Linked DNA regions of Homo sapiens: all the other regions are linked to region 2. The links come from fine-mapping of genetic effects on gene expression. A gene starts in region 2. Each other region holds a variant in brackets. All regions are shown on one strand. Distances are between the middles of the regions. Region 1 has its middle 110 kb from the start of PWRN4. Region 2 holds the start of NDN (necdin, MAGE family member). Region 3 holds the start of MIR4509-1 (microRNA 4509-1).

What was found. PIP is the estimated chance that this variant, and not a neighbour inherited with it, causes the effect.
Region 1: its variant is fine-mapped to the expression of NDN in whole blood (TOPMed, PIP above 0.99).
Region 3: its variant is fine-mapped to the expression of NDN in whole blood (INTERVAL, PIP above 0.99).

Annotation. Positions count from the first base shown.
Region 1 is chr15:23,865,351-23,873,162 of GRCh38, reverse strand. No RefSeq gene overlaps it. Among named protein-coding and RNA genes, the nearest start is that of PWRN4, 110 kb to the left of the region's middle. The variant A/C (reference allele first, on the strand shown) is at 3,625.
Region 2 is chr15:23,683,965-23,691,776 of GRCh38, reverse strand. It overlaps NDN (necdin, MAGE family member), which reads left to right and starts at 4,472. Exons shown (of 1, transcript NM_002487.3): 1 at 4,472-6,377. The coding sequence starts at 4,560. The coding sequence ends at 5,525.
Region 3 is chr15:23,192,545-23,200,356 of GRCh38, reverse strand. It overlaps MIR4509-1 (microRNA 4509-1), which reads right to left and starts at 2,530; the gene lies at 2,437-2,530. The variant A/T (reference allele first, on the strand shown) is at 4,072.

The DNA.
Region 1 (7,812 bases), 180 kb before region 2:
CCGTCTCAAAAAAAAAAAAAAAAAAAAAAAAGTATGGTACCAATGTCAAGTTCTTGGTTTTGATAATTGTACTGTGTTAAATAACATGTTATCACTGGGGGCCAGCTAGGTTTGTCATGGGTAAACATGGCTCACAATTCTATTTTGCTAGCAGTTTACCACCAAGAAGCAACATGTTCTTTGTGTGCTCATTTCCTTAGTACTTTCATTCTCTCAAGTACACAAAACATATACTTTGAACAGGATCCTTTTCTCACTTTAGGATCCCAATCAGCAATGTGGCCTTTGATAGCAAATTTTGCATCTCTGATTTGGCAAAACCAAGACTTCCTATTTTACTCTTGAGAAATTTGCATTGCAGTGAACACAATATTGGGAATTAACTAATTTTGTAGTCTGCCACTCTCCATTCATGACTATTAATGATAGTCCTAGATGAGGACTGTGACCAGGTCCTGAGTTTGAGATCAACGTAATATTTATGCATGGTATCCCACAAATGCATGGTTGCAGGACGGGAGATGATACAATAAGAAGCAAAGAATAGGGAGGCATAGGAAAAAAATGTATGCCAAATGCCTCATAATATCACTGCTGTTTAATGCTTAAAATTGAGTTTGGCTTTATGACATTGTTTCAGTTAATATCATAGTCTTGTCACACACAGTGTGACCTTAAGAAACATATTTTCTCAGTCTTAGAGTATTGTGTTTTTAAACTTCTTTAAGTGCTGTTTTCTATTTTTATCTTTAAGACAAGATGTGTAAATTCATGTGAATAACTATTAAGATAATGGCTAGCAATTATTCAATTCATTTTACGTGTCAAGAATTGTTCCATGTGTTTTCCATGAATCACGTCATGCCATGGCTACTGTTACAGGTCTGACTCAGTGTAAGGTGATTCTCCCTACAAGAAAATGATAAGCCCCTGGAGTAAACCCACAGCTTAACTGGTAGGTGTTTAGTTTGAGCAAGTATACAGTATTTTACAACTGAGCAAGTAATCCACACATGCCATCTGTCAAGAGATGTAATGGTAATCCCCATCACTGACCTCAACTCATCCTCCAATACTGGAGGAATAAGAAGGTCTACATGTTGAGCGTGGTAGAAAAGAAAATCAGGTTGGGACTCAGGACATACCTGAGCTTTCAGAACAGTCCAAGATGGTTACGATGATTTGAATATTTGATGTGATATGAAATAAATCCTCATTGCATCTTAAAGAAATGAGATTAAGATTTTTCTTTTATACCAGAATTCTTAAAACATGGTCTTTAGGCTTGAATTACAAATAGGCAGCACTTACAGCAAACACCCACACCAAAGTTCCCCAGAATGCCTCTCAATGTTTATTTTAAACACGGTCTTTGTCATTTGCTTTCTCTCTGCTCTTTCCTCTGGTTTATTGTCCATCTGTAATGAGTCAACCAATCAGGCCACTCCCAAAAAAACTTACCAAAGGCATGTGAAAGGTTTAGTTAAAAGCAATAAAAAGTATTTAAATAGCTGCTAAATCAAAATGACTGAATTATGTATTCTAATTAGTAAAGGAGAGGAAATGTACTTTTTCAATATGAAAACTGTTTCTCATATTATGTCATATACAACATAACTCTACAAGATGATGTACATTATAGTAAAAAGTAATATAACTTGGGTAGCAATTTGCTACTATATAAGATTTCAGAGATGCACATCCTTTGACCCAGAATTTTAAATTCTATGAATATATTCTACAAAAATAATAGACCTCTAGTACAGACGAATGTACAGGGATGTGGACTCCAATACTGTTTCTTTTGGCAAAATACAAAAAGAAAACAAACTACTGTATATATCCATCAAAGAATAATGGATAATTTTTTAAATATACTATAACACACCCTTTCAACAGATTAACATACAAATATTAGAGATAATCAGTAATTTCTGAATATTTAACACATCCACAGTAAAAGACTATAGAACAGAACAGTGAGATGATTTTTCTTCCTATACAGTGGTGAAGAGGATGGTAGGGTGCAGCGAACCAGAGGGATGGTATTCTGATTTCATCACTTAATGCCTTTGTAACCTTTCAATAGTTACCCTATCACATTTTAGTGTCCTCACTTGTGCAGTGGATGTAAGAAGGCATACTATGTATTTTTTTAGTTATAACGTTCCAACCAATTAAAGGAGCATTGATAACACCGCATGGCAATTCTATGACTTGATATATCTAGTTTAAATTAACACAATTAACCTTGTATAGTCTACTGCACGCAGGAAAACAGAAATATGCATATTTGTGTATATAGGTATTTACAAGCATAGATCTGAAAACGCAGACACCCAGGTATGAATGTTGAAGGTGGTTGCAAATTTCAGGATTCAGAAAGTAGATGACAGTCTATTATTATGTAATTTTTTTCTAGATTTAAATTTTTATCAACAAAATATTTTCTTCCCTCAAAAATTAGAAAGTTAACACAGCAAAATAATTACTCGCATATAGTTCTGAATATTCCTCAAAGAAAATTTCTAAGTCTATAAGAAGACAGCTGAATATCATTCCTAAATGTCATATCAGGAATTTTGTTATTGGGATTTCTTTCCTGCCTCTGCTTCACCCTTAACTTTGTCAATGTCCTTTTATAATACTTTTAGAATACAGAAGAACATGGAGGTAAATTCCACATAATTTACAACACATAGGAAAAAAGGACCTACACTTGCTTATTTTGTGAGAGGTGGCAGTGAAGAGATTTCTGCAACAGATGACTGAGCTAGGAGATGGCACACGAGGTACAAGGGTGGGGGTAAGTTAGAAACAAAATTCTGAAGTCGGAGGAGTTTCATATAGAAGTGGTTCAAAAATGAAGTTCAATAGTTTTCCTATTAATGAATTTAATAAAGTTGTTTAAGTGGAATGAAAATTAAAAGATTGGGGGTAAAAATCACAAACTTTTAAATAAGGTTATATACTGGTAATAGTCACAGGATTTTAAAGATAATGTATAAAACTATGAAGAAATTTTGCTTCTGGAGCTTTTGTGGTAGATGAAAAAGTCCAAAGAACACAAAATAGAGAATCAGTATCCAAATCTAAAATCAAAATTGATGTTGACTTCCCATTAAACAAAAAACTCCACATCAATCTAAACATTCAAAAAAAAAAGTCTTACCAATGTAATTAAAGTAGAAATATAAAGCGCTAATAATACAAAGGAATACAAAAACTTTATTTGTGGATCGTCACATGAATATAAAATCGATAGATATTAACAACACTTTTACGTTTTCCAGAAAAAAAAAAAAGCCACTCCCTTTATATGGTAGGAAACAAACAAACAAGCAAAATCCACGTCTGGGGGCCTAAACCCTAGAAAGAATGAAGTCAGGGGAGTTGAGCGATATTTCCCATCTCAATTTCCCCGCGCAAACCAGAGACGAGAAATTCCTAGCAAGCGCCCTGATCTTAAAGGGACCTGGCCAAGGCCCAAGAGCCTGAGGCCCGCAGGAGCGCAGCCGCTCCTCCTGGCTCCGCCTCACCAGCGCTGAGCGGAAGCTCCTGGCCCGACCCCCGTAGCCGAAGGCCTCCCCGCCCACATGACCTTCCCACAGCACACCGCGAGGT[A/C]GCCTCCTGTCTGACCGGCGCTCCTGCGGCAGTGCGCTGTCAGGCGCACCCATGGTTACCATCCTGGGACAAACCGGGAATACCCGGAGACCAGAGGGTTATTGAGTCTTCTCTCTGGGCTGTTAAGAAGTCAAGAATAAACAGTTTCCAAAAGTCTCTGTCACCCCACGATCGATTTCTATATCCTTGCTGCTTTTCAGCATAGCATAAAATAAGTGTAAAATAACTTTTTTTTTTGCCGTTGCTTCCAGAAAAAAGCATTTCAGGTTGCATGGAAAGAAAATCCTGTAGTTTATACGTTCTGTAGCTGCATTCTTACAGGTCAGTCCTGAAAAGCTGAATCTGAAAGGTTAATAGCTTACGAAGTAGCGTGCACCCTAAAATACGTATTTAGACAAATGTACCAGTACCAACAAAATCACAGTAAGAAGAAAATACTCAAAAATGGTTTTAAAAAATAGCACTTGTCATACTATTCAGGGAGACTCTTGTTACAATTTTTCACTGAATATATTTTGTATATAACATAAAACTTAATAAAAATCTACAATCCAGAGTGGATGTATAAAGATTTTAGAATTTCCAGCCATATATTAAAAAGTAACCTTAGATTCTCCACCTTTGACCATATATATAAATTCTAGATGTAATAAAAGACTATGCATCTTAAAAGAAAATTAAACAGCAATAAAATATTTCCTAACTGTCCACGTGAAATCGGAAATATTTACATTTGTCCATAAAATTATTTAATAATGTTTAAGCATACTAGAGAAAGACTACAAATAATAGTTAAATATTTGTAATGTATTTGCAGTGAAGGACCCAATATAATGCTAATAAAATATCATGACCTAAAATTAATAAGTAATAAAAGCAACCTAATTTTAAAAATAATGTATTAAGTGACATGAGCAGGCACTTTTCCAGAAAAACATAAATAACACAATAAACACTATGTATCCTCCAAAATTAAATAAGCTAATTAGAGAAACCACTTTAGCCTGACTGGGGAGAAAATGAATTACTAATATTTAGGCTTGAGAATTGCCTATGTAATTTATTACATACACTTTTTTTTTTTGAGACATTGTCTCACTCTTGGTGCCCAGGCTGGAGTGCAGTGGCGTGATCTCGGCTCACTGCAACCTCCGCCACCGGGGTTCAAGCAATTCTCCTGCCTCAGCCTCCTGAGTAGCAGGATTACAGGTGCCCACCACTATGCCCGGCTATTTTTTGTATCTTTAGTAGAGACGGGGTTTCATCATGTTCAGGCCAGGCTGGTCGGGAACTCCCAACCTCAGGTTATCCACCCACTGCCGCCTCCCAAAGTGCTGGGATTACAGGCGTGAGCCACGATGCCTGGTCTGTTACATACACATTTTAATGTAGGGTATGTATTGCTATATACGTTTTTGACTCACTGATTTTATTATTACTGAAGTGTAAGGTTCATCAGAATGCTTTCTGCAGCATTTTCTGCAAAATTTAAAAATAAAAATACACTAAATTTTTATGAATAGGCCATAGGCAAATTGAAGGGTATATGTATTTTGGAATACAAAGTGCTAACAAAAATACTGCAGTGGATATCTAATGATATGGAAAGAGCACTATGACATACTACAGATAACCAATTTGGAAAATAAAATGTGAATATCACCTATATAGCTATATATACATATATATATAGCTAGATCAATCTATTAAATATATATAGAAACATATACATTAGTAGATATAGATCTGGTTAAATGCCATTGAAAGCATTATGAAAAATCTAATATCTATATTTATAGCTGTATCTACATCTAAATTGCTATCTCTATGTAGGTAGACATATAAGTTCATTTGGATACATTGGTAGACGTACTGGAAAATATGCACACATAAACACAGTTAAAAATGGTATGCAGTCGGCGGGCCCAGTGGCTCACGCCTGTAATCCCAGCACTTTGGGAGGCCAAGGCAGGCAGATCACAAGGTCAGGAGATCGAGAACATCCTGTCTAACACGGTGAAAACCCGTCTCTACTAAAAAACAAAAAATTAGCGGGGCGTGGTGGCGGGCACCTGTAGTCCCAGCTACTCGGGAGGCTGAGGCAGGAGAATGGCGTGAACCCGGGAGGCGGAGCTTGCAGTAAGCCGAGATTGCGCCACTGCACTCCAGCCTGGGCGACAGAGTGAGACTCCGTCTCAAAAAATAATAATAATAATAATGGTATGCAGTTAAATGGAAAAAAGGATATTGTGTATATACATTTTAATGTTTAATTTGTAATCTTCTGTACGTTTGAATATTCACAGTAAATTGTACGAATTGTATAATTTAAAAGACATTATAATTTGCTGTTCATTGAAGTCCATCAACAGTGGTTCCTTGGAATCGTTTCTGTCCAGGACTCTGAACTCTGTCTTCACAATCACCACCACGATCTACAGCAGCTGCTGGGAGCCTGGGTTCTTAGAAATTTGTTTGCTCTCATTCTTCCATTTTTGGATGACAGATGGCGCTACAACATGGGTTTCTGATAGTTGCATAAATTTCTAACACTGACAACTCACATATGAATGAAGTGGATTTTAACGTTAAAAAATGGAGTTGTTCTCAGGGTTCACACATTTTCTTCGAGGAAGAGAAATTAATGTAAATTTTCACAGGAAGAGTTTAAGGGCTTTAGCAACTGGGGAATGCAGGGCACTATCCCTGTGCTAAGAAAAAGCTGCAAAATAAACTCTCTTGACTTCTCACTCAAATGTCTTCTCACTCAAATGACTTCTCACTCAAATGTCTAAGAGCAGTTTCTGTTACAATTCAGTAATTTTTATGGACACAGGATGGCTCCCCAACTCCAAAGTGACAGAAATATTAATATAATAAACAGTGAGCCTGGAGGAAGATTTAATTGCGGTATATCTCAGTTGGAATATGCAGAAAATGGATAGAAGAGGTAGTGGAAGAGGTGCTGGAAAATTGTGGGTTGAGAACAAAAACAGAGGTATACATTTAAACTGAAAGACTTTAATAGAGAAGGCAGTCACTTCCCTCAAATTATTGAAGCACAAGCGAATTTCCCAATATTAGCAATTTTTAAGCTATGAGCAAAATCTTCCATTAGCCACTTTGTTTTAGGGTATTTCTAGGGGCTTATGGGCTTACAGAAGACCCTGCCTCATGATTTAACTAATGCATTCGTCACTTTTGCATGGTCAACAAGTGCTAGTGAAAAAGGGATAATAGAAAAATAGTATAAAGCTGAATGTAGCCCGTGAGTATATAAACTCATATAAATAAGATACTACAAATCAGAAAAGAACTGAATAATTTATTTTTGAAGGAAAACAATATTCCAGTAAGGAAGTGCTGGAAAAAAGCATGGGAACATGTCAAAGTCTACAGAAGCCAGCCTGAAGGAGTCAGAATTCCAAATAATTTATATAGATAATCTCCCCTTGAGGAGGTAGAGCATATCTTATGACTTAAGTGTGGGCTTCTCATAGTGACTTCCTTCTAAGGAGTATAGTATGGAAATGGAGAAAAATAAATACTTTTACAGTGGAGAACCCTGAGAATCATTGTCCAAACCAGGTGTTGAAGGTCAACATCAACAGTGATAATTCATGTTGATAACATATACCATTGATAGGATGTTATAAAACTGGCAGTTTATCTTGATGAACCTTCTCCCTCAAAATCCATAGCACCAGTCTAATAATGAGAAAATCATAAAATAGATCCCAATTGATGGATGTTTTACAAAATATTTGACCAGTAATTCTAAAAAGTGTCAAAGTTATCAAAAACAAGGAAAGTCTAAAAAAGCCATCACAGTCTAGAGGATCCTAAGGAAACATGATGAGTAAATGGGGTTTGGAATTCAGACTGAGATCCTGGAAGAGACAAAGCACACATTAGATGGACACCAGGGAAATTTGAATAAGTGTGCATTTTAGTTAATAATACACCAATATTGGTTCATTCACTGTAATAAATGTACCATACCTATGTAAGATGTCAGTAAGGGCAAAACTGGGTGTCAGATACTCTGGACTATCTTTAGGAGGAACTCTGAGTAGCTACATAGGAAATTTCTTTACTACTTTCCCATCTTTTCTGTAAATTTAGAACTGTGTTACAAGAACTTTAATTTTAAAAAATAGATAAAAGGTAGTAAGGGATTTAACCCAA
Region 2 (7,812 bases):
GGGAGACAGCCTCTGTGGCATGTGCTATGTTCTCACACAATGAAACATTACGCCATTCTCAGATCATTAAAGAGCCCTGCTCCAGACACTCTCAGGGTGATGTGATTTATCTTCTTTACCTTCCAAACTTAACTTTCCAGCGCAGGCGTTTTTGCTGAGTTGTGTCAATCCAGATATCCGCTGGGTAAGACCGTTCGGTCTTCCCACAATCTTCTGGTCCTTCTCTCTGCATGGTTTCAGGAAATGGCACCTGCATCTCATAGCTGCACTGTCCTGCTCAATTGGCTGCCTGAGACAGAATCCTGGATGTGCCTGTTATTCACAGTCTCCCCTCCCCTTCCATTGCTGTTTATATCTTTTGAACCTGGCATTTCTATTGAACCTCGGCTCCCTCTGTCCCACTCTTGGTGATAATATTGCTTCACAATATGCATCATAACATATGATTTGATCAGGCATTTGTTTTCTCTTTTAACGCTCTTTTTCTCCACCACTTTCCCTCAGTACAGATTACAGAGACCATGTCACTTCTCATTGTATCCCCAGGCACAAGGCCTGAAATGTAATGTTAGTAAACAGTTGGCGAATGAAGATGAAATGCAAGCCATCACCCATTTTCACATGGAGTCCTGGGAAGGGACCCCTAATGAGACTCCCTGCCTCTGCTTGTCCACCTGCCCCAAACTCTAATCTTACTCTGTATGCAGGTGACTTTTCAGAAGACACCCTAGACTCCTTAACTATCTGAGAGAGCTGCTCCTTGGGGCTGTGCAGAACAGAAAATTCTCCCATTTCAGTGCATGCGATGGACCTTGAATGGATGAGCATGAGCAGTGGCCCCCTAGGGAGGCTGGGGATGAGGGGCCAGGGTCCAGTCCCTCCCTACACCCTCCCAACTTTGGAAAGCAGCACTGCCTGTCCTAACTTCTTAATGTTTTCTAACAAAAAAAGGGGCCCAGCTGCCATGGGTTTTTCCCTCAGACTGAGACTTTTCTGAAATGCAAATATTTCAGGCACATGACGGATATTGCTCAATATTTGCTGAACACATTAAAGTGAATTCCGTTTAAGATCCTTGGCCTGAAAGGCATTTGGGGCCCATTTAGGGGCTCCAAGGTGGAGGTTGCTGCCTATGTGGACAGGGAAGAGCCAGAGGATTCACATTTCATCCAGGGCCTCTGGGCCCCTGCACTGCGAGCATGCGCACTTCCCACTAGAGGCTCTGGGGTGACCCCCCTTCCTCCGTTCACTATGGAAACCAAGGCTGGGACTGGCCTCTCCTCCTGTTCCTGGGTCTGCCAAGAACAGCCTATTCCACAGCTGTGTAATCTGTTCCGTATTACAGAGTTCGAAGTAACCCACCAGCAAAACTGTCTGCTCCAGAATATTTTAAGTTACAGCTTCTCCGTATATTTTCTGTGTCTATTCACAGAACTTCTATTTACAGAATTTTGATTTAATGAGTAGTTGAGATATATTTTTGTAGTCTTCACACTTTTCTACTAAGCTGCTGGCCCTGAGAGGACTTATTGCCCAACTCAAATAGGGGCCCCCCTGGAGACACCCAGCAAGATTTATTATCCCCATGACTCTCAGGACAGCATTAGAGCTCCATCCCAGATCTTGAGCCTTGGGTCAAGGTAGTTGTGGATGCCTTCCAAGTACTAGCTTCGTCTCATTTCTCACAGTGTCTTTGGTCCTTTTTGTTATTACTCTGAAGGTCGGAATCTCTGGTTCGTGGGCACACACCTTATTAGGCAGCCATCAAGCTACTGACCCGTCTATCCCATTGCACCTGCGCATGTGTGCTTTCCCCACTAACAGGCTATCCCAGGCTTTATTTTGTCCCACTACCCCACCTACCCAAACTTCTACTCCCAGTAATTTGATTTTGGGGGGGAATTGAACCTCTTCATTCTTCAGGAAGAAGATGATATCATTTTAGCAGGTGTACAGTTGGGCTCCAGGTCTAGCCTGTGCTTCATTTCAGACTTGTGCATCAGACCTAAGGCTTTAAGCCTTCCAAGTGTAATCTCTCAGGGTGGTCTTAATCGACAGGCCCTGGTACAGCATTGGACAACCCTTCTGTCAGAAGTGTAGTGTGTTGTGTGCTGCAGGAGAGGCCTTCTGCACAGTCTGCTTGATGCTGGCAACTTCACTAGAATGAAGTCCAGGTAGAAGTTATCCAGTCCTGCCCAGGCAGCAACTGAAGTCCAAGCAGCTCTCTGGCCAGAGCGCTGATACTCACTTCAGCAGAGCCACCTTTTATTGTTGTCATGCCCCAAGCCTGCACTTTAATTTCAAGAATCCATTACATCTCGGAGGGTGACATGTGAGAATGCAGTTTTAATGAGATCACAATGTTAAAAACCATAGCCTATGGCCAAAGCCAAGTTGAGATTTAAATAGTAGGTTCAAACACTTTTCTTATTAAAAAATATATCAAATGAACTAAATATTTTATTTCTTTATTTATTTAATGTTTGAGACAGTCTCGCTCTGTTGCCCAGGCTGGAGTGCAGTGGCATGCTCTCAGCTGACTGCAAACTCCACCTCCCAGGTTCAAGCGAGTCTCCTGCCTCAGCCTGCCAAGCAGTTGGGATTAAGGGTGCCCACCACCACACCCGGCTAATTTTTGTATTTTTAGTAGAGACGGGGTTTTGCCACGTTGGCCAGGCTGGTCTCGACCTCCTGACCTCAGGTGATCTGCCCGCCTCACCTTCCCAAAGTGCTGGGATTACAGGCGTGAGCCACCGCACCTGGCCTAAATATTTTATTTAAATAGTTAGAAAATAATACATACCCAAACAAAATAAAGAATAATATTGATGGAGATTTAAATGCAATAAATGAGGATTATATTTATGAAGCATGGGGGTAATAAGTCTGTTCAAGAGACATTCTTAAAAACAATGAATATAATTAGCATATTTCTGTAAGATGTTCCCAAGAAAATGGTAGATATCTATAAATAGAAGAAGGAGAAAAAGGAGAAGTAGATGGAGAGGAGAAGGAGGAGGTGGAGGAGGGTGAGGAGGAGGAGAAAAGTGTTGAAATAATTCCAACTAAGACTGATATCTAGGAATTACCCTGGTGAAGTGGGAAGCTTAAGAGTCCTGTTGGAGGGACTGGTGTGGTAATGGCTCTGCCAAAAGTGTTATGTGCGTGCAAACCCAAAGAGAGAAAGCACAGAAAACCTTTCAACATCAACCTGCTTGAGGAAAAATAAAGTGGGAAAAGATACATACTCACAGTGAGGACTCTAGACATGTCAAGACAATTTTTAAATATGCTTTTGGCTTCGAGTGGCAATAACTAGATTCAAGACAGCATATTTAAGAAGCTGCTGATGAGAAGAAACCCGGGAAGAGCTGAAGGACCACATCAGCCCAGACCAAGGATGCTGAAGCAGCATTAAGGTCCCTGGTTTCAGATGCTCAGGCAATGACCCTTTTTTTCATGGAGAGCCTGTAGGAGTGACAGTTTTGTCTTTGCCCACTGGGAATCTGTTTTCCATACCTGGAAAACAGGGTTACCTATGTTTCCCCTGCTACCCTTTGGTCATCTCAGAGACACTACCAGATATTACCCATGGGACCTATTTTTTTTTTAAATCTCAGGAAAGACTTGGGTGTGGCTTCCAACGTGGAGGACTCAGTAGCTTCAGAGAGGGTCCTGAGAGAAGGTGAATTGAAGAATGAGGGTGCTGGGCAGAGGGAAAAGACATTATCATACAAGTTTGTGCTAAAAGATATAGCAATCCTTCTGCTATGGACTAAGTATGGAAAAAAATAAAATGGAATCAAAGTTACCCAAAGGAAGTGTAAAACCCAAATTTATGCCCGTTAAAGCATTAATGATGCTCTAAGTCCACTGCCTACTTAAAAAGTTCATAGTTCACATGGGTTGATAGGAAATTACGTTAACGACACACTGCATTTCCCCTTTTCTTATAGCCTATCTGATTTGGTAGGGAGTCGATCATTTTTTATTGGAATTTCTCAGGATTCCAACCTCAGACATCCACTTTACAGTTTACACATTTTCTTGGACAAGCCCGACTGTTCCTCTCACTGGTTCGCATAAAGCTCATGTTTACAAAGCCGCCCAGACCTTTCTCTGGGACTCTCATATTTAACTTAATTCTGGATATACCCAGGTAAGCGTTTCCCAAGAAACTTGACCCCAACATCCCAAAAACTTAAGGTATCTTTCCCTTAAACTGGCCCCTTCTCCAGTACGCATCCATCTCACTTCTCTCCTGCCCTAGATCTTCTCAGCCCAAACAGGAAACCCCGGGATCGCTCTCCCAGCAGGTGAAGCCTCGCCATGGACCCTCCCCGTCGGGGCCCCGCGCTGCCCCGCCCGCCCCCAGCCGCTGGCCAAGGCCGCGGTCGCGCAGGCGCAGTGCCGCGTCCCGCCGCCGCCCCGCCCTGCCCGTCGCTGCGGAAGGCGCCGCGCGCAGCAACGCGCACTTCCTCTCCAGGAATCCGCGGAGGGAGCGCAGGCTCGAAGAGCTCCTGGACGCAGAGGCCCTGCCCTTGCCAGACGGCGCAGACATGTCAGAACAAAGTAAGGATCTGAGCGACCCTAACTTTGCAGCCGAGGCCCCCAACTCCGAGGTGCACAGCAGCCCTGGGGTTTCGGAGGGGGTTCCTCCGTCCGCGACCCTGGCAGAGCCGCAGAGCCCTCCTCTAGGCCCGACGGCCGCTCCGCAGGCCGCGCCGCCTCCCCAGGCCCCGAACGACGAGGGCGACCCGAAGGCCCTGCAGCAGGCTGCGGAGGAGGGCCGCGCCCACCAGGCCCCGAGCGCGGCCCAGCCGGGCCCGGCACCGCCAGCCCCGGCGCAGCTGGTGCAGAAGGCGCACGAGCTCATGTGGTACGTGCTGGTCAAGGACCAGAAGAAGATGATCATCTGGTTTCCAGACATGGTGAAAGATGTCATCGGCAGCTACAAGAAGTGGTGCAGGAGCATCCTCCGGCGCACCAGCCTCATCCTCGCCCGGGTGTTCGGGCTGCACCTGAGGCTAACCAGCCTGCACACCATGGAGTTTGCGCTGGTCAAAGCGCTGGAGCCCGAGGAGCTGGACAGGGTGGCGCTGAGCAACCGCATGCCCATGACAGGCCTCCTGCTCATGATCCTGAGCCTCATCTACGTGAAGGGCCGCGGCGCCAGAGAGAGCGCCGTCTGGAACGTGCTGCGCATCCTGGGGCTGCGGCCCTGGAAGAAGCACTCCACCTTCGGGGACGTGCGGAAGCTCATCACTGAGGAGTTCGTCCAAATGAATTACCTGAAGTACCAGCGCGTCCCATACGTGGAGCCGCCCGAATACGAGTTCTTTTGGGGCTCCCGGGCCAGCCGCGAAATCACCAAGATGCAAATCATGGAGTTCCTGGCCAGGGTCTTTAAGAAAGACCCCCAGGCCTGGCCCTCCCGATACAGAGAAGCTCTGGAGGAGGCCAGAGCTCTGCGGGAGGCTAATCCCACTGCCCACTACCCTCGCAGCAGTGTCTCTGAGGACTAGCAAAGTCTGGAGGCAGATGAATGGTTTCTGACCCTCACCAGGGCTGTGGAAGGGTGGGGGTGGGTCATTATAGTATTCAGGATTTACAGTGCAGTATTCACGTGTAACTTTTAAGTTTTCAGTACAGTGCTTTTATACCTTTAATGCAATGTTGTATTCATTTGGGTACTATTGTGTAGTATTTAGGATGTATGCATGTTTGTTTATATGTAAGCTTGGTTGGTGCTTTCGCTTTTGTGCTACCTTTCTTGGATTTTTGTACCAGAGATGTGCTAAACTGATGAAATACATTGAGAAAGTTTCCATCTTATTCTTTTATATGGGACTGATGATGTGTGTTGGGGTAGACTGCTCCTGCAGAGTTTGGAAGAAGTCACCAGCAAAGCCGGCCTAACCAAGAAAAGTCAAGGCCCTTCATGACCTTGCTGGGCACAGAAAACACCCTCGTGGAGTACACTAATTTGAACTGGACTGGTCTCAGTGTGAGCACTTGGCACACTTTACTAAACACATATACAACCCCACCGTGAGTCAACTTTAAAGTAAACATTAAAGATTCTTGTGATACAATCATTTTTGGAAAAGTGTACTTTATCATTTTAACAAAGCAGTATGGTTGGGAATGAGACAATTCTCTATTTTACAGTGTATACAGATACAACTATTTCCCCTAATAGGGTGGGAAAAATCGCTACTCATGATTACTCCTAAATTTGTGAAGTTTATAGTTCTATTGTCTTTAAATGTAACTCATGTTTATTTCAAAAACATTCACAAATATAGAAAAGTATACAAAACAAAACAGTAAGATTGTCTGTAATCACATCATATGGGAATAAAAAACAAAAATAATTTCCTTCCCTTAAGTTTCTACATTTTATCAAAATTAATAGATGTCTTGTGACATCTATTAATATACATATAACATATTTATAATATAAAAGAGTGAGACATTGTGCTAAGCCCTAACATGTATTTTTCTCCTTTAATCCTTGCAACAGGCCTGTCAGGCAGGCACCTACTGCCTCTGCACCATGGAGGAAACACAGGAATAATGTAGGTAATGAACTTTCCATAGCTCATAAAGGTTAATAAGAGAAGGAGCTAGGACTTGAACTCAGAATGAATCCAGAGCCCACATTTGTCTCCACCTGCCTACGACTGCCCTATACCCCGTGGCTTTTAGGTTATTTATTTTTAAATTTATTTTTACATTTTATGTGGGAGCCTACAATCACATGGGTTCATGGGCCACACATACAAAAAGGCTAGGAATTTTATTTTTCTAATTCTCATGATATTTTGGAGAAAGCAATATCATTCTGATTGTGCAAATTAAGAAACTTACTTTTGGAGAGGTTAATTAACCTAACAAAGTGATATTCCTATTTAGCAGTGAAGCTAGGATTTGAAACAATCTCTCCTGAGGGTTGGAGGTGAAGGCACCTTCTCTGACAAACACACAAGACACCTGAGAGAGGGAGGTGGGTTGTCCATCAGGATGTCTGTGGCCTTGCAGCCCTTCAGTTGCGGTGAGCCACTAGGTAATCCTCAGAGGATGGGGTGGGCTGCGGGTGGGCATTAGGGGCAATGCCTGAAGAAAAATCTCACTGTGAATTTTTAGTCCTGCAAGGGGTAGCGGGGAGAAAGGGGGCTTTAATAAGACTAGAAGTCCTTTAAACTACAAAAGAGTGGGAAAGACCATTTGGCCAAAGCCAGAAACTTTTCTGTGGAAGATGGATAATGAAGAGGACACATGTCACATAACACCCCAAAGAAGTAAACTGGGAGTCCTATTAGGGTGAGGGAATTATAATTTGGAATTGCCAACACTTACTGGCATTACTTAACAGGTGGGGGCAGGTGCTGGAAATGCTTAGGAAGCCCCTGTTCATGCTGAGATGAAATCCATCCCGGTTTAAAAGCTTCCTGTGAAGATTTTCAAGGGGGTTCTGCAGAGAAAGGGGGACATTTCTGCAATCACCCAGGCAGGGGTGACCTGGCTTTGATGGCACCTCTTACACAAAACCAATGTGAGTGTCTCACCTGTTCAGAAGTGTTAGGATTGTTTGGAAATCTTACCTCCCCACAACCCATCGAAAAGTTTCTCCAGAATCAAAATAAACCTGCCCGTTATCATTTAAAATTGTGGGGATATCCAGGATGTTTCATTTCTGGAGTAGGACTGTGGGCTGTTGTTCCTGCCACACATGGTGCTGGTCATCTTCTCTAATGCCTTAATACTTCCCTCACTGCTGGATTGATGCCTTGCAGGAGCAGTAACCCC
Region 3 (7,812 bases), 490 kb after region 2:
AGGTCCCCCTGCTGTGTGCAGCCTTGAGACTTGGTGCCCGGCATTCCAGCCACTCCAGCCATGGCTGGGGTGGGAGACACCAGGCTACAGCTCAGGCCATGTCTTCGGAGGTTGCAGCCCCAAGCCTTGGCAGCTTCCACAAGATGTTGAGCCTGCAGGCGCACAGAAGTCAAGAATTGAGGTTTGGGACCCTCCACCTAGATTTCAGAGAATGTATGGAAACACTTGGATGTTCAGGCAGAAGTTTGCTCTGGTGGGGTGCGGGGGCAGGAGCAGGGGCTCATGAAGAACCTCTTCCAGGGTAGTAGAGAATTGAAATGTGGGCTCTGTCTCCCATACAGAGTCCCTACTGGGGCAATGCCTAGTGGAGCTATGAGAAGAGGGCCGCTGCCCTCCAAACCCCCAATTGGTAGATCCACAAACAGTTTACACTGTGTACCTGGAAAAGCCACAGACAATGCCAGCCAGTGAAAGCAGCCAGGAGGGAGGCTGTACCCTGCAAAGCCACAGAGGCAGAGCTGCCCAAGGCCATGGGAGACCACCACTTGCGTCAGTGTGACCTGCATGTGAGACACGGAGTCAAAGGAGATCATTTTGGAACTTTAACGTTTAATGACTGCCCTATTGGATTTCAGACTTGCATGGAGCCTGTAGCCCCTTTGTTTTGACCAATGTCTCCCATCTGGAACAGGTGTAGATACACTGGGGGTACCCAATGCCTGTACCCCCATTGTATGTAGGAAGTAACTAACTTGCTTTTAGTTTTACAGGCTCATAGGTGGAAGGGACTTGTCTCAGATGAGACCTTGGACTGTGGACTTTTCAGTTAATGTTGAAACGAGTTAAAACTTTGGGGGACTGTTGGGAAGGCATGATTGATTTTGAAATGTGAGAACATGAGATTCAGGAGGCGCCAGGGGAAGAATGATATGGTTTGGCTATGTCCCTACCCAAATCTCATCTTGAATTGTAGCTCCCATAATCCCCATATGTCATGAAAGGGACCCAGTGGGAGGTAACTGAATCATGGGGATGGGTTTCTCCCTGTGTTGTTCTTGTGAAACCGAATAAGTCTCACAAGATCTGATGGTTTTATAAAGGGGAGTTCCCCTGCACATGCTCTCTCTCTTGCCTGCCACCATGTAAGACATGTCTTTGCTCCTCCTTTGCCTTCTGCCATGATTGTGAGGCTTCCCCAGCCACGTGGAACTGAGTCCATTAAACCTTTTTTTCTTTATAAATTACCCAGTCTCAGGTATTTCTTCATAGCAGTATGAAAGTGGACTAACACAGTATCAAACCCTGGTTTGGGGTAATAATCACTACCTTCTAGGTAACCAGAATGGAAAAAATATAACAGAAAAAAAATCCTAAAAATCATCCTGCGTACAAGAAAAATGAAACTGTATGCTGAATTCTCAGGGGGAGAAAACGTATTTAAAAATATATGACTTTCAAACCACAAGAAACTATAGACCATTGCTTTAAACTATTTGTCTATGAACAGTATGTAGAAACACATGGAATTTAGGAAATAGGAGATGAAGGCTACAATAACAAAAGAGGCTCATATCACAAAATGGGAGATAGCTGAGATGAGGCTTCTATGAAAACTAAAGTGCAAGGGCAGATTTTCCATCCACAGGGAAATCCGTGGAGAAAGAAACTGACACACTGAAAAGTTCAAGCAGCAATTGAATCAGAGCTCTGGAGGGCAAAGGAAGAGATGAACTAATGACAGAGAAGAAGGCGGATGGGTATGCCAGAGACCACAGGTTCCACCTCGAGAATAGTTTGTGTACTGGGGAAAGACACAAGGGCAAGGAGATCTGAAACAATAATCAAAGCTATCACTGAAGTACGAATAATAAAAGCACCAACCAGCTTCTAGGCAGGGAGGGGGAAGAAACAAGGAAGAGTTCTCCATATTTAAATAACAACTAGCCAAACTCCTGAATTTTACAAATAAATAAAAAAACTTCCTTAAAAATAAAAAGTCAGGCTTAGATAAGACTTTTTTTCTTCTCTGTTAACATTATTAGAAGACATAAAGATTTTAAGAGAATAAAAATATGATCAAGAGGATCATAAATATCAGGTTGTCTTTACCTGAGTACGAAGCAATGGCATCTGTATATCCAGCACTGATTTGTCCTTCCAATAAAAATTTACTCAAAGACATATGGGTACATATTAGAAAAATAATCAAAATTAATATTTCAAGGATTAGGAAGTTGTGAAGCCAAAATCCTGCAAGGGGACAATTGATTCAGTTAATGGAAAGATTTATTTTTCATATTTTATGATTATTTACCAAAATAATATTTTTAAAGTATAATTATAAAATAAAAATAAAATATTTAACAATACTATAATTATAATCATGTTCCAAGTTATAAAACAAGATAGTGAGAATTGTCAGTAAGATAGTAAGAATTCTAATACTATCTCAAAATAAAGGATACAGAAGGTTTCAGGGCAAGAGAAAGGGAAAACCTTCTATATCCTTTAGTTTGAGATAGTATTAAAGCTTTCTGTAGGCTCACTCAAAATGTCCGGATTCTGACCACATTTGAATGAGCACTCCCAACCTGACGATTCCTAGTCTAAGCCACACATATTTCCTCTTATGGTTATTGCAAAAGCTCCCTAACTGGTCTCCCAGCTTCTGCCGTTGATTCCTTTCAGCTATTTTTTACACAAGTGCCAGAGAAATCTCAGAAATGCAATTCAGATGATATCACTTCTTTGCTTATATCTTTCAATGTTGTTCCCCTCTACGTGTTCATGTATTCTCCCCTTTGACTCTCGCTTCTAAGTGGGAACATTTGGTTTTCTGTTCCTGCATTAGTTGGCTAAGGATAATGGCTTCCAGCTCCATCCATGTTCCTACAAAGGGCGTGATCTCATCTTTTATGGTGGCATAATATGCCATGGTGTATATATACCACATTTTCTTTATCCAGTCTACCATTGATGGGCATTTATGTTGATTCCATGCCTTTGCTACTGTGAATAGCGCTGCAATAAACATATGCATGCATGTGTCTTTATGACAGAACAATTTATATTCCTTTGGGTGTATACCCAGTAATAGGATTGCCGGGTCGAATGGTAGTTCTTTTAGGTCTTTGAGGAATCACCACACTGTCTTCCACAATGGCTGAACTAATTTACACTCCCACCAACAGTGTAGAAATGTTGCCTTTTCTCCACAATATTGCCAGCATGTTATTTTTTGGCTTTTTAATAATAACCATTCTGAATGGTGTGAGATAGTATCTCATTGTACTTCTGATGTGCATTTCTTTAATGATCAGTGATGCTGAGCTTTTTTTCTATGTTTGTTGGCTGCATGTATGTCTTATTTTGAAAAGGAGGGTGAAAGCTGGGAGGAGGGAGAGGATCAGGAAAGACAACTAGTGGGTAGCAGGTTTACCATGTGGGTAACAGAATAATCCGTACAACAAACCCCCATGACACAAGTTTACCTACATAACAAACCTGCACGTGTACCACTGAACTTAAAAGTTAAATTTAAAAAATAAAAAATAAAAAAATCTTTCAATGGTCCCATGTCAGTTTGAGGAACAGCCAAAGTCCTTAAAATGACGTACAAGGTGCTCGTTCCATCATCCGTCTTCTCATGTTTATTTCTCTGCCACCATCTACTAATACTCTTCCCCCTTCTCATTCTACTCCAGCTATAATGGCTTCCTCGATGCTGTTCTAAGAATAAGTCCACATGATTCCGACTCAGGGCTTTTGCCCAAGCTGTGGTCTCTCTTTGGAATGCTCTTTTTTCAGCAGAGCACGATTCCTCCTCATTTCCTTCAAGAAGTCTGTCGCCAAATGCCTTCTACCTGGTGTGTAATTGTCATGTGTGGCAGTTTTAAACATAGTCCAAAAACAGGTTGATATTCTTCTCATCAAAAAATAGGTCTATGTCTCCCTTCCCTAAATCTGGACGTGCTTGTGACTGCTACAATCAATAGAGTATGACAAATAATTCTACCTGACCTTTAAGGTGAGATAAAAAGAGACCAGGCCTTTTCCACCTGGTTCCCTTGG[A/T]GTGTTTGATCTGCGGAAAGCCAGCAGCCATATAAGAAGTTTACCCTGTGCAGGCCGGGCGCGGTGGCTCAGGCCTGTAATCCCAGCACTTTGGGAGGCCAAGGCGGGTGGATCACGAGGTCAGGAGATCGAGACCATCCTGGCTAACACGGTGAAACCCCGTCTCTACTAAAAATACAAAAAAATAGCTGGGCCTGGTGGTGGGCGCCTGTAGTCCCAGCTACTCGGGAGGCTGAGGCAGGAGAATGGCGTGAACCCGGGAGGCGGAGCTTGCAGTTAGCCGAGATCGGGCCACACCACTCCAGCCTGGGGGACAGTGAGACTCCGTCTCAAAAAAAAAAGAAAAAAAAAAAGTTTACCCTGTGCAGGCACTATAACTAAGAGTCCTTCCCATCTGAGCCTTGCCTTCCAGACAACTCCACCAATTTATAAGACAGAAAAAAAGCACCTTGCACCTTCCAGACTGACTTGTTTGCCAGCCGACTAGCACTGAGTCACCCTAGTTAATGATGTGAGAGAGGAAGAATCACTCAGATGAATCCTGCTGGAATTTCTCACCTATAGGATCCATGAGATATAATGAAGTGGTCGTTGTTTTACCTTATTAAATTTAGGGTAGTTTCTTTTTTCTTTTTCTTTTTTTTAATTTTTTTTTTTTTGAGACGGAGTCTCCCTCTGTCGCCCAGGCTGGACTGCAGTGGCGCGATCTCGGCTCACAGCAAGCTCCGCCTCCCGGGTTCACGCCATTCTCCTGCCTCAGCCTCCCGAGTAGCTGGGACTTAAGGCGCCCACCACCACCAGGCCAGGCTAACTTTTGTATTTTTAGTAGAGACAGAGTTTCACCGTATTAGGCAGGATGGTCTCGATCTCCTGAACTCATGATCCGCCCGTCTCAGCCTCCCAAACTGCTGGGATTACAGGCGTGAGCCACGGCACCCAGGCCATTTGGGTTAGTTTCTTAAGCAGCAATAGTAACTGTAACACTGACTCACTTCTACTGCCACCAATCACTATCCACTTTTCCTGATTTACTTCTTCCTATGTACCATCTTTTAAAAAACAAATAATTAGGCCGGGCTAAGTGGCTCACGCCTGTAATCCCAGCACTTTGGGAGGCTGAGGCGGGCGGATCACGAGGTCAGGAAATCGAGACCATCCTGGCTAACACGGTGAAACTCTGTCTCCACTAAAAATACAAAAAATTAGCTGGGCGTGGTGGTGGGTGCCTGCAGTCCCAGCTACTCGGGAGGCTGAGGCAGGAGAATGGCGTGAACCCAGGAGGCGGAGCTTGCAGTGAGCCCAGATGGCGCCACTGCACTCCAGCCTGGGCGACAGAGCGAGACTCCGTCTCAAAAAAAAAATAAAAATAAAAAATAAATAAAAAAAGATTTTTAATATATATATACAAGAATATGTGAAACAGTATGTTTTCAAGTTTCCATTGAATATTTTAAAAATAGATTATATAAAACCTCAATATATTTTTTAAAATAAAAACCACACAGGTCACATTACCTACTCAAAATTTAATTACATTAGAAATTAAGACAAAGTTAAAACAGGACAACCAGCACCCCTAGTATCACCCTCCTCAGAGTATTTAAAAATAGATTCCTTTAAATTATCTCTTTTTTTACAAGAATAAAATCTAATCAATTATTAGAAAGATAATCTCAAACTGAACTCAAAAGAAGAAGCAAAGCATCTTCAAAGTCAATAAGGGTGCTATAAATGCTTCTTGGACTCTGAAACTCTCTGACTTCCCATTCTACTCTCAGTTGTAGAAAACTCCCTGATTGTTAGGTTTTGGTGTGATTAGGTTAGGTTTACCCAGGTACTCCCCCCGTCTTAAGGCTGACGGATTATTAGCCTTAGTGACATGTGCAAGACTCCTTTGCCGTGTGAGGTATCAACAGGGTAACATGAGGAAATGAAGGTCATAGGGGCTATCTTAGACTTCTTCCTGCTACAACCTCTATTCACTTATTTTGAATCCTCAGAGTTTAATGAGCTCCTACTATGTTCTAGGTCCTTGCAATAGGAGTACAGCAGTGAACAAGACAAACATGGTTCTGGTCCTTGGAGTACAAAGTAAATGCTGAAAATTTAATAAATGGGTCAGTAGATAGATAGATGTATAAAGGTCTAAATGCACATTCAGAAAATAGCAGGAGAAGACTGAGACTCAGTATTATTGAATATGCTTTAAAGGCCCATGTGTCGTCTTGAATGAAAATGTTGCTCAATTTCTGATGAGGAGACTAATTCATCAATATCTGTTATCATTGACTGATGACCTCACATAATAAAAGATCTTGACTTGAGTGTACGTTAATAATCAACATAATGGGTAATGTATCAAAAGAGTATATGGAAGATAATAAAAAGATATAAATTGAAATCTTAAACAGTTTTGTGCTAAAATATGTTTAGAATTGCTTGAACCCAGGAGGCGGAGGTTGCAGTGAGCTGAGATTATGCCACTACACTCCAGCCTGGGCAACAAGATCCAACCTCCGTCTCAAACAAACAAACAAACAAACAAACAGAAACAACCCAAACAAACACAAAAAATTACTATAATTGTATCTCTTTTGACTATAGCCTGGAAGAAATCACTCTCTCCCCAACTTAAGGAAGGGGAGACTTATCTCTAGCCAAGCTTTGAGTATAAACATATAAAAAGTAATTTTCATTTTCTTGAAACTGACTGCATGAAAAGGCATATGGTGTTCCCAAAAAATGTCTGATGAGTGAGAATATTAAAATGACTAAACTGATGGGACATATTTAATTTAATATTTAAACTTGATAAAAAATAGTTAAGCATTTAACTCAAGAATTTCAAAATGGTACAGCAAAGCATACAAGCAAAATTAAAAGGAATGCTAATTACATATTAAGTTAGAAGGCAATAAATTATAAACAAAAACAGTAACAATTTATAAACATACACAAGTTCATTCTTTAACAAATAACCCATGATACAGAAAAATACAGCAAATGTGATAAAACAAAAACTGAGAAAACATAAAATTTAAAGTGAAAAAAAAAACAAAACATGCAGAAATTGTTTTAAAGACAAAAAATACTATCTTAGAAAATTAAATACGTGTTTCACTAAAATAAACATGTACTGCTTAAATGAATCTTAATTTAATTTTAAAAATAGTAAATAGGTTGCAGGCATCAATGTTTGCAAGAAATGTAAAACATTATTTTAAAAATTTTTATTAAAGTCCCTATAACCAGTGTTTTTAATAAGCATCTGTTTAAAACATCTTGTAAAATGGACCCCAGACTAGGAAATATGGATAAAGTTATAAAAAGTGGCTTCCTTTCAGTTCATTTTACAAAGCAAATATAACTATTACTAACTCTTGATGAAGTGAATACAAAAAGAATAAAATTACTAAACAGTATCCCTTATAAACATAGTTAAAATATTCTTAACTGAAAGAAAAAGGAACTGAATTCTACACTTACTAAGAAATCACCCACCCCAGTGATTTGGCATACAAAGATTTAATACTAGAAAATATGTATTAATATAATGCAACACAACAATAAAGCTATTTACCTTATATTGTACATTTACTGCTACAGACTAAATGTTTACATCCCTCTCAAATTCATATGTTGAAATGCTAACCGCCAGTGTGAGGGTTTTTGAAGGTGGGGCTTTTGGGAACTAATTAAGTCATGAGAGAGCAGCCCTCATTAATGGGTTTAGCACCCTTC